Linked DNA regions of Homo sapiens: regions 2 and 3 are each reported to be linked to region 1. The links are microRNA targets in miRTarBase. Many come from high-throughput screens and were not tested one by one. Region 1 holds a microRNA gene; each other region holds the end of a gene's coding sequence.
The links. Region 1 holds the annotated microRNA hsa-miR-4446-5p (AUUUCCCUGCCAUUCCCUUGGC, at 1,751-1,772, shown strand). A microRNA usually pairs through its seed, bases 2 to 8, with sites in the 3' UTR of a target mRNA and lowers its output. Matches are read on the target gene's strand: a 7mer-m8 pairs with bases 2 to 8, a 7mer-A1 pairs with bases 2 to 7 and ends in A, and an 8mer does both.

Region 2: miRTarBase lists ACTN2 as a target of hsa-miR-4446-5p. Seed matches in the 3' UTR shown: 7mer-A1 at 2,518-2,524 and 7mer-A1 at 2,259-2,265.
Region 3: miRTarBase lists PPP1R3G as a target of hsa-miR-4446-5p. Seed matches in the 3' UTR shown: 7mer-m8 at 516-522 and 7mer-m8 at 813-819.

The regions. Positions count from the first base shown.
Region 1 is chr3:113,593,133-113,596,284 of GRCh38, forward strand. It overlaps MIR4446 (microRNA 4446), which reads left to right and starts at 1,744; the gene lies at 1,744-1,810. All of the region lies in intron 10 of SIDT1 (SID1 transmembrane family member 1), which reads left to right.
Region 2 is chr1:236,762,251-236,765,250 of GRCh38, reverse strand. ACTN2 (actinin alpha 2) reads right to left here. Exons shown (of 21, transcript NM_001103.4): 21 at 620-2,790. The coding sequence ends at 2,632. Among named protein-coding and RNA genes, the nearest start is that of MTR, 32 kb to the left of the region's middle.
Region 3 is chr6:5,086,172-5,089,171 of GRCh38, forward strand. It overlaps PPP1R3G (protein phosphatase 1 regulatory subunit 3G), which reads left to right. Exons shown (of 1, transcript NM_001145115.3): 1 at 1-3,000. The coding sequence ends at 391. The region is part of intron 3 of LYRM4-AS1 (LYRM4 antisense RNA 1); the gene reads left to right. It also overlaps a transcript of LYRM4 not described here. Among named protein-coding and RNA genes, the nearest start is that of PPP1R3G, 2.3 kb to the left of the region's middle. RefSeq lists an enhancer at 1-141.

The DNA.
Region 1 (3,152 bases):
TTTTGCAATTTACAAACCCTCCCTTGATTCCTATCCCGCAGAGTAGTCTAGCCTGCAGTTGGAAAGCAAAGCTAGTGAAAACCAATTCTATAGTTCAAGAGGTCCCAAGCCCTAGGCCGTGGACTGGTACTGATCCGTGGCCTGTTAGGAGCTGGGCTGCACAGCAGGAGATGAGTGGCAGGTGAGCAAGTATTACCACCTGAACTCCACCTCCGCTCAGATCAGTGGCAGCATTAGATTCTCATAGGACCGCAAACCCTATTGTGAACTGTGCATGCGAGGGATCTGGGTTGCGTGCTCCTTATGAGAATCTAATGCCATAACCCATCCCCACCCCCGTCTGTGGAAAAATTGTCTTTCATGAAACCAGTCCCTAAATATTGGTGCCAAAAATGTTGGAGACTGCTGCTGTAGTTGATAATTATTGAGACGTGGAGCTCACACTAAAAACCTTTACTAGGAGTGTCCCTTGTAATCACAGATCATTGGTCAGCCATTCATCTTTTTTAAAAGTTTCACCTTTTCTAGGACATAATTGTTCATACCTGTCCTATCCCAAAGCTGATTTGTGAACAACAGTAAGAATGTATTGTGCCAACTCTGATACATGGTTTACTTTTTCCCAAACTAAGATGGAGGCTTTCTTAAGTGTCTAGAAAACTGAAATACTTGACCCTAGCAAGTATAATAAAGAGTATAATAACTTGGGGGAATCCAGAGTAATTGACTATCCAGCAATTGTACTATGCCTTTTCCTCCACTCTGAGAGTTTGAACAAAAGAATTCAATGACCTGATCTTTTTAACAAAATTAAAAATTTAAATGTCCTCATTTTTGAAAAACCTAAACTCAGTGCTCATAGGTTATTTGGCATAGAGCAAGAATTTGGTTAAAGAGGAATATGAAGTGGAACTTGGTTTTTAAGTCATACATAGCAGATGTTTAGGTGTGTGTTTTCCACACTTAAATGAGGCCACAGAATCTTAGAAAGACTTTAACTCACCCCCTACCCCCCTCCAGCAGGATCATTGCTCCCTTTGCTGGAGAGTTTGCTTTTTTCTTTTTAATGTTTGTCTTCCTTAATGTCAGCATGCCTGTTTTTCCAGCCACCCAAGCACTTTGTTTTATAAACATTCAGCTGTCAATATAAAAGACTATAAAAGAACACCTGCTCTCGTGGCTTTAAAGTGCTAAATGCTCCTCTCCCTTTTAGTCGTCAGATGTTTAAATGAATTTGTCTGCTCTCTGGATGTCATCTTTTTTCCTACAGGAAAAAAGTTTTGTGCCTCCAAGTTTTGTGATTAGTTTAGGCCTAGTTGAACTTAGGCCTACATCCAATCGATTGAATCCCATTGGGTAGCCTCTGAATGGTTAGTCTGTTATTTTTTATAGTATGAGTGAAGTCTTTTTATTATAATAATATTTATTGAAGGAATTCTGCATTCAGAAGGGTCTGTTGAACATTGAAGCATAAGTGGACAAAGCTGGGACTTGAGCCAGATCATTGTCCAGGTTCAGGGAGGCTCTGAAAATTAGCTAAGAGCTGGAGGTACCCTTCTGATGGTAAGCGGAAACAAATGAGTGACCAAAAAGAGTAAAGATGCATCATTGAGATTCATGTGGCTGTAGGTAACCACAGCAACAAGAAAAAAAAAATCTCAAACCTGCTTAATCAAGAAAGAGACTCCTAGCTCTGGAAGTAGAGCCAAAAGATGTACTTCAGGATTGATGAGTCCAGTGGCTCTGGTCCATTTCCCTGCCATTCCCTTGGCTTCAATTTACTCCCAGGGCTGGCAGTGACATGGGTCAAGGCTCACACCTTCACCTGGCAGCACCAGAGGGAAGGACCTTTTAAGAAGCCCTCAGCAACTTCTTGTGTTTCATTGGCCTAGAGTGAATCATACACTTATTGTTAAACCAGTCACTGCAAAGAACAGATTTACCTACACATCAGATAAACCTACTTTCAGAATTAAGATTAGGTCCTCTTCTCTAAGACCAGAGTTTCTCAAACTCAATATTATTGACATCATAGGCCAGATAATTCTTTGTTGTTGGGGGCTATTCTGTATCTTATAGGATGTTTAATAGCATCCTTCACTTCCGTGCACTAGATTCTAGGAGTTGCCCCTCCTTGGGACAACTAAAAATGCCTCCAGGCTTGGTGCAGTTGCTCATGCCTGTAATCCCAGCATTTGGGGAGGCCGAGGTTGGAGGATTGTTTGGGCCTAGGAGTTCGAGACCAGCCTAGGCAACATAGTAAGACTTCGTCTTCATAAAAACAAAAAATAAACAAAATTAGGTGGGCGTGGTGGTGTGCACCTGTGCTCCAGCTACTTCGGAGGCTGCTATGGGAGGATCGCTTGAGCCCAGGATGTTGGGGCTGCAGTGAGCTGAGATCGCACCACTGCACTCCAACTTAGGTGACAGAGCAAGACCGTGTCTCAAAAAAAAAAAAAGCCTCCAGACATTGCCAAATGTCTTTTTGGGGGCAAAACTCTTTCCCCACATCCCCCTGTTTGAGAACCATGGACCTAAACACATGAAGACACCTAAATAACACACCAGCTTAGGTAAGAAGTAGGGAATAGGAATATTCACCACACAAAAGTCTTGAAATAGGAAGAAAATAAGGAACCTTTGTAAGGTAGAGAGGCCACAGGGAATGATGGCATCACCCCCAATGTCATGACCACTGGTGAGTCAAGACCTAGATGCTTAAACCAAGAGCAGAAGACAAGCACTGCCCAAGGGAAGAACCAGTGACTTTTTTAGGCATCTCAAACAGAGCATAGAGAAATCAACCAGGAGCAAGAGACAGAGGCAAGTAAGGACCATATCTGGAAGCTAGTGACAGACATTCAGGGAAGAAACAAGGATACAGAAATGTCTTTCTCTCCCAAGGCCAGGATCAGCATGACCATGGGGCACAGGAAGTTCGATGGAGCTCAGAGTTACAGGAAATGCCTTGGGTGCTTATATCCAGAGAAAATGCTAGAAGCAGCTTCTTAAAGGGGAAGAGGATCCCACTAGACTTAATACGGTCTCTGCCCACATCATTGTGGAGCTAGATATCTGTGGAACTTAGCCTAAGGCTTTCACCTTAGACGTGACTGAAGTGGAAGAAATGGAATCAGGTCCCTACAGGTTGC
Region 2 (3,000 bases), not on the chromosome of region 1:
ACTCTGGGATTAGGGCTGAGTATGCATACATTTTAGAAAATATTTACTGAGGATTCTGAAGTGATCTCTTGGTTAAAAATTCCTTCCTAATCTATTCATCACTGATTTTTTTTTTTTTTTTTTTTTTTTTGAGATGGAGTTTCACTCTTGTTGCCCAGGCTGGTAGTGCAATGGCTCCATCTCGGCTCACTGCAATCTCCACCTCTTGGGTTCAAGTGATTCTCCTGCCTTAGCTGCTGAGTAGCTGGGATTACAGGCATGCAACCAAACCCGGCTAATTTTTGTATTTTTAGTAGACATGGGTTTTTGCCATGTTGGCCAGGCTGGTCTTGAACTCCTGATCTCAAGTGATCCGCCCACCTTGGCCTCTCAAAGTACTGGGATTACAGGTGTGTGCCACCATGCCCCGGGCCATCCATCATTCACTTCTAAATGGTTCATTGTTAATTCTCCATCTTATGTTCACCCTCTACCCAGTAAGCCTGTCTCTAATTCTTTAAGGGAGGCAAATACTAACCCAATGACTGTTTTTAATTCTCATGGAACCTTTAAGTGAGGAAGTTTGTTTGTAGTTAACCAAAGTAATGGTTATTTTTTGAAATAACAAAAATAGGGATTCTTTTTTCTTTTATAAATTAAGTTTAATTTAGAAACTTATAAACGTTTTAATTTTTGAGCATCCAGCTTCAGAAATAAAAATAATACCTAAAATGAGAGTATAAACATGTTTATTATTTTTCAGAGTTTACTTCCTTTCTTCATTTATTAGCAGATAGAGACTACTGACCCCCTCTCTTGCTGAATGTTGTAAAGAAATTAAAAGTTTAGGTAGATGAGTTACCCACACCCATCCTAAAACACCACAGAGCCCCCTAATAGCCTCAAAGGAAGCACAACTTTCTGGCTTTTCTATAGGGGTTTATGGCCGGGATATAGCACCTACTTGAAATAAAATAGAGTCAGAGTTCATCTAAACCACCCCAAAAGTGTTTGGCATTAAACTCAAGGATTCAAATATTTCAGGAATCTGGAAACTACCAATTACTTAATAATGAAGCAAATTAAGTGAAATTCATAAAGGTTGAAGGTTCTAAATGGCCCAGTGTAGGAAGAAGAGTCAAGCTGTCAGACAGCTTGGAATGGAAATATTACATTTCCAGCTGTTGGTGGAAATCTATAAAAATCTGAGCAAACAGACTGTAGGTAACAGACATGTTACTGCTTCTCTAGTAATGCTTTAATTGCTGTTTGCAACTGTTTTTGTTTGTTTGTAATCCATTTCCTGATCATTAAGGACTCAGATATAAAAAGAATTCCTGCTTTATTCTCTACAAGCTGTCAACAAGATGGAAAAACAGGGGGGAATTATAGCCTACAGCAGTATGAGCAAAAAGAAAGAATGAACATTCAACAGATCAAGATGTGCTAGCAGGAGTGCATGTAGCATCCTGTGTCATGGAGCAGGCCTTTAGACACAGAACCAGACATGGGACTTGTTAGGATACACTGTCCAATCCCAGGGGTGAACACACACCGCACACTAGCTAAAATATCTAGTTATTCCTACTACACAAAACATATGTAAAGCTTCCGCAAAAGAAAGAACTCACCTCCACTGCTGCTGAGAATTAGTCCTCTCCTACTCTAACTCTGGCTTCTCCTTAACCGGTCATAAAACTAGAGGCATAAGGAAGTCCTGACTGGAGAGCTAGAAGGATACTGGTTTCTGACTTGCCTTGTGATGAACCAGTCAGTACTACAGAAACCTGCTTATTTATAAACAGAGCACTTTTATGTGGTCATCTCTTGAGAACCTGTACTAATAAGCTCTAACAAAAAGCATGGGAACCTGGAATCAATAAATAATCCTAAAAACCTCATTTTACCTAGTGATTGCATCCTTCTCTCTGGCAATTAAACTGACTTCCACGTGTCCTTAGGTCTCTATTCTGGAGGATAAGAGAAGCATCAAAAAATCACTGACTGAGTTGACCATCCAGCCCTAAATAATGAAGAGATGACATAAACTATTTTAAAAATTGTAAGTGCCAAAAATCTTTTGGGTAGTCTTTTTAATCCCCGGCAGTTCCATCTCACAATATTAAATTCATTTGAAGATACAATAGTAATCTTTGGATAAGCATGAAAATAAAACATTAGAATCCCAAATATACTCCCCTAGGGGCAATCACATAAGCATATTAGAGATAAATGAAATTTTTTACAAATAGCAAACCTTTATTTACCAATTTGTGGTTTTTTCCCCCCGGTCTTAAATCTTGGGTATTTTGTATTTTCACATTTTTCACTTTCCTTCTGTCCCTAGATCCTCCTAATTTCCTATTACTCAAGTAATTTGTTCTGTTTAATCAAAGAAATCAACCTGATATTTCATTACATTTTGCTAAAAACTCAGAAATAAACCTATTTATGAAGCGCACTATGTCATATACTGTAAAAACTTCATTTTAGCCGTGTTATATTGCTGGCAATTACTGAACTACGAAAGGCTTTTTTTTTTCCCCTCTCTCTCTCTCAACTTAATAAAGCTTGTCAAAGTTTCCAGGAAACAAACTGTGACTTCCGCTTTTATTGCATTCTGATGGGATGAGTGATTACAGAAGCTCAGCATCACAGATCGCTCTCCCCGTAGAGTGCGGAAGAGAACGCAGCGTAATCCAGTGCACCAGGCACACTGCCTGGGCCCGAGTAGGCGGGCATCCTCTTGATGCAGTACTGGGCCTGATCCGGGGGCAGCTCCCGACGCAGCTCCTCCGCCAGGATGTATGGCTGGGAAAAAATACACACGTGTTTGCAGTCAGTTGCAGAAACACCACAACATAAACAGTCTTAATACTTACATATTTCTTGCATCTGTTTAATTTTTTAAAAGGACTAAAGAATAGGGAGTCTATTGGCATAGTAGTACCAGACAACCAACAGAAAGCCAAGTTTTACTTGTAGGAGCGTATCTAGAAGCGGCCTGGCCAGCAGGAAGGG
Region 3 (3,000 bases), not on the chromosome of region 1:
GGGCGCTGAGGTGAAGGGCTCCGGCCGGGTGCTCAGCTGCCCTGGGCCCAGGGCCGTGACCGTGCGCTACACCTTTACCGAGTGGCGCTCCTTCCTGGACGTGCCGGCTGAGCTGCAGCCCGAGCCGCTGGAGCCACAGCAGCCAGAGGCACCGTCTGGGGCCTCCGAGCCAGGGTCCGGGGATGCCAAGAAAGAGCCAGGCGCCGAGTGCTTCCACTTCTCGCTGTGCCTGCCCCCGGGCCTGCAGCCTGAGGACGAAGAGGACGCCGACGAGCGCGGCGTCGCGGTCCACTTCGCTGTCTGCTACCGCTGCGCGCAGGGCGAGTACTGGGACAACAACGCGGGCGCCAACTACACGCTGCGCTACGCGCGCCCTGCGGACGCGCTCTGAGCCTGGAGAGTTTCGAAGAGCCGTGGGGCGGGGTTGATTAGCACGTGGAGCTCGGGCTGCCGCCTCAAGGAACTTGCTGGGACGCTTTGCTGAGCGTGGCGAGTCTGGCGTGAGGGGCGCGTGGAGGGAAAGGAGGGAGACTTTGAACCGTCGACTCGCACCCCCGCAGACAAGTGAGCGAGCTTAGAGAGCCCGGGCAATGCTCCGAAAGCCTCTGACCTCAGTCTTCTCGTCCGTTTGACCTTCCTACAAGGCCTCTAGAATTCCCAGCCTGCGTCAGAATAGGAAGAAACTTCCAAGGCCCGGAGCAGCTGCCTCCAAGAAAAAGGCTCCCAACTCCCGGGCATGGTTCTAAGGCCTTGGGATTGGTTTTTAACTCTAAATATCATATTGTAGCCCTTGCAGTTTGCTGGAGACCCCTAGGGAAAGAACAAAGCGTCCTGCCACGGTGCACCAGAGGAAGGTGCCACGGACTGTGGGTGCACGCGTGGGACCTTTACACCCCAACCTATTTCTCAGAGAAAACCCTTCGGGGCTGGGCCAGGCCACCCTTTTCTTTTGACTGAGATGTGGGTAATGTGTGCCCAGACTTGACGTTGTTTATTGTGCGACATTGTGTACAAATGTCCTTTATAAAAGTAAAGGCCACTCGCACCCCCTTTTACGCTGTACTCTGAATTTTGGCTTTCGTGAGTTTGGGGAGGCATTGGCAGTCGGCCGATCTTTGTCAGCTGATGATGTGCGCACTTTAACAATCCTTAAACAACAGCCTACAAATTCCTCCCCTTCGTTCCTTCCTCTCTACTGCGAAAGGGCCCAAACTTCCCATGTGCTTTAAAATGTTCTGTAGAAAGTGTTCCGTCCCCCTCCGAATTAAGACGTTTGGTGAATTGAAATGCCAGTCCTCGGGCAGGCCCTGGCTGTGATCTGCGAGAGCCGGGCACGCACGCCCCGGCGCCCTTTGTGTAGGCAGAGCACACTGTTAGGAGACTTGCCGGGCCATTAGCAGTCAGAGAAGCTGGGCCCTTTTAGTCGCTGGACTGCCAGCGCAGGGGATGGGGGATGGGAAAGTGGCTTTCTGTTCCTCTCAGAGCCACAGTGGGGAGTGGTGACTTGATGGAAGAGGAGGCATGCCCAGCGAGTCAGTGCTGCGCAGACGCAGATGGCCACCTCTGCAGGCCCGTTGGGTGGGGTATGGACGGCCTTGGTCGCTGTGCTGGCTGTGGATGCCAGGATGATGTGGCCCTCTGTGCATGGGTGGGCAGGAGGGCATCCCGAGTAAGGTCTGTCGCCCCTTGACTCTGCCTCAGTGATTTCCCTTTTTTTAAGTCTTCCCATTTTCCAGCACATGGCGAGTACAGTCAGTCGTTTTAGGGATGGTAGTCTCTAAGGAGGGACAGTTTCACTGTTGCTTGATAGAACAGGGCTGGGCATACGTACATTTGGCCCATGGGCCAAATTTGGCACACAGCTTATTCTTGTAGGGCCTGTGACCTAAGAATAGTTTTTACATTTTTATTTTTAATTTAATTTTCTTATTATTATTTTTCGAGACGGAGTTTCACTCTTGTCGCCCAGGCTGGAGTGCAATGTGCGATCTTGGCTCATTGCAACCTCCGCCTCCCAGGTTCAAGCGATTCTCCTGCCTCAGCCTCCAGAGTAGTTGGGAGTACAGGCATCTGCCACCACACCTGGCTAATTTTTGTATTTTTGGTAGAGACAGGGTTTCACCATGTTGGCCAGGCTAGTCTTGAACTCCTGACCTCAGGTGATCCACCCGCCTTGGCCTCCCAAAGTGCTAGGATTATAGGCGTGAGCCACCTCACCTGGCCTTACATTTTTAAATTGTTGAAAAAAATTCAAAAGAAAGTACTATTTGGTGGCACGTGAGAATTATATAAAATATATATTTCAGTGTTCACAAATCAGGTTTTACTGGAACACAGCCGTGCACACTCATTTCTGTCTTCTCTGTGCTGCTTCCATGCTACCGCAGCAGAGTGGAGTAGACACAGCAGAGACCAGATGGCAAAGTGTAAAATATTTACTATCTGGCCCTTTTACAAAAGGCTGGCCAACCCCTGCTCTAGGGAAGTAGTGTTTTTTAAACACAATATGCTGACAATTATAGTTAATAAAGCATTTAGACTTTAGTGAGCTTTTGCCACTTGAAATAAACCCCCTTTGGGTAAAGGTAAAGCTTTATATGACTCTCAGTAATCTTGTTTAGAATAAACACGAAAATGTGAAAAGTGCGGTTATCATTGTGTCAGGCAGGGGAATCTACCTGTTGCCTTCTTTCACCTAAAAAAATAGTAACACATCAGTGCAACTGAAACATAGCACCCGTTTGAATTGGCTTCAAACTACAAAGCTGCCAGATATTTCTCTGTGCTTCAAAATGTGGCATCTTACACAATGGAAGTATTTAGTTTGAACTTTGGGTTGGAGATATCCCTTTGACTATGGCAGTGTTTCCCAAAGTAAACTGATCATAGGAAAAAAATAATTTATTGACAGCAAGCCATCAGGAGTTAACATATTACAATTTAGACTTTTAAAAATGGTCAATGGTCATATCAATGAACTAATGAATACTTAATTCATAT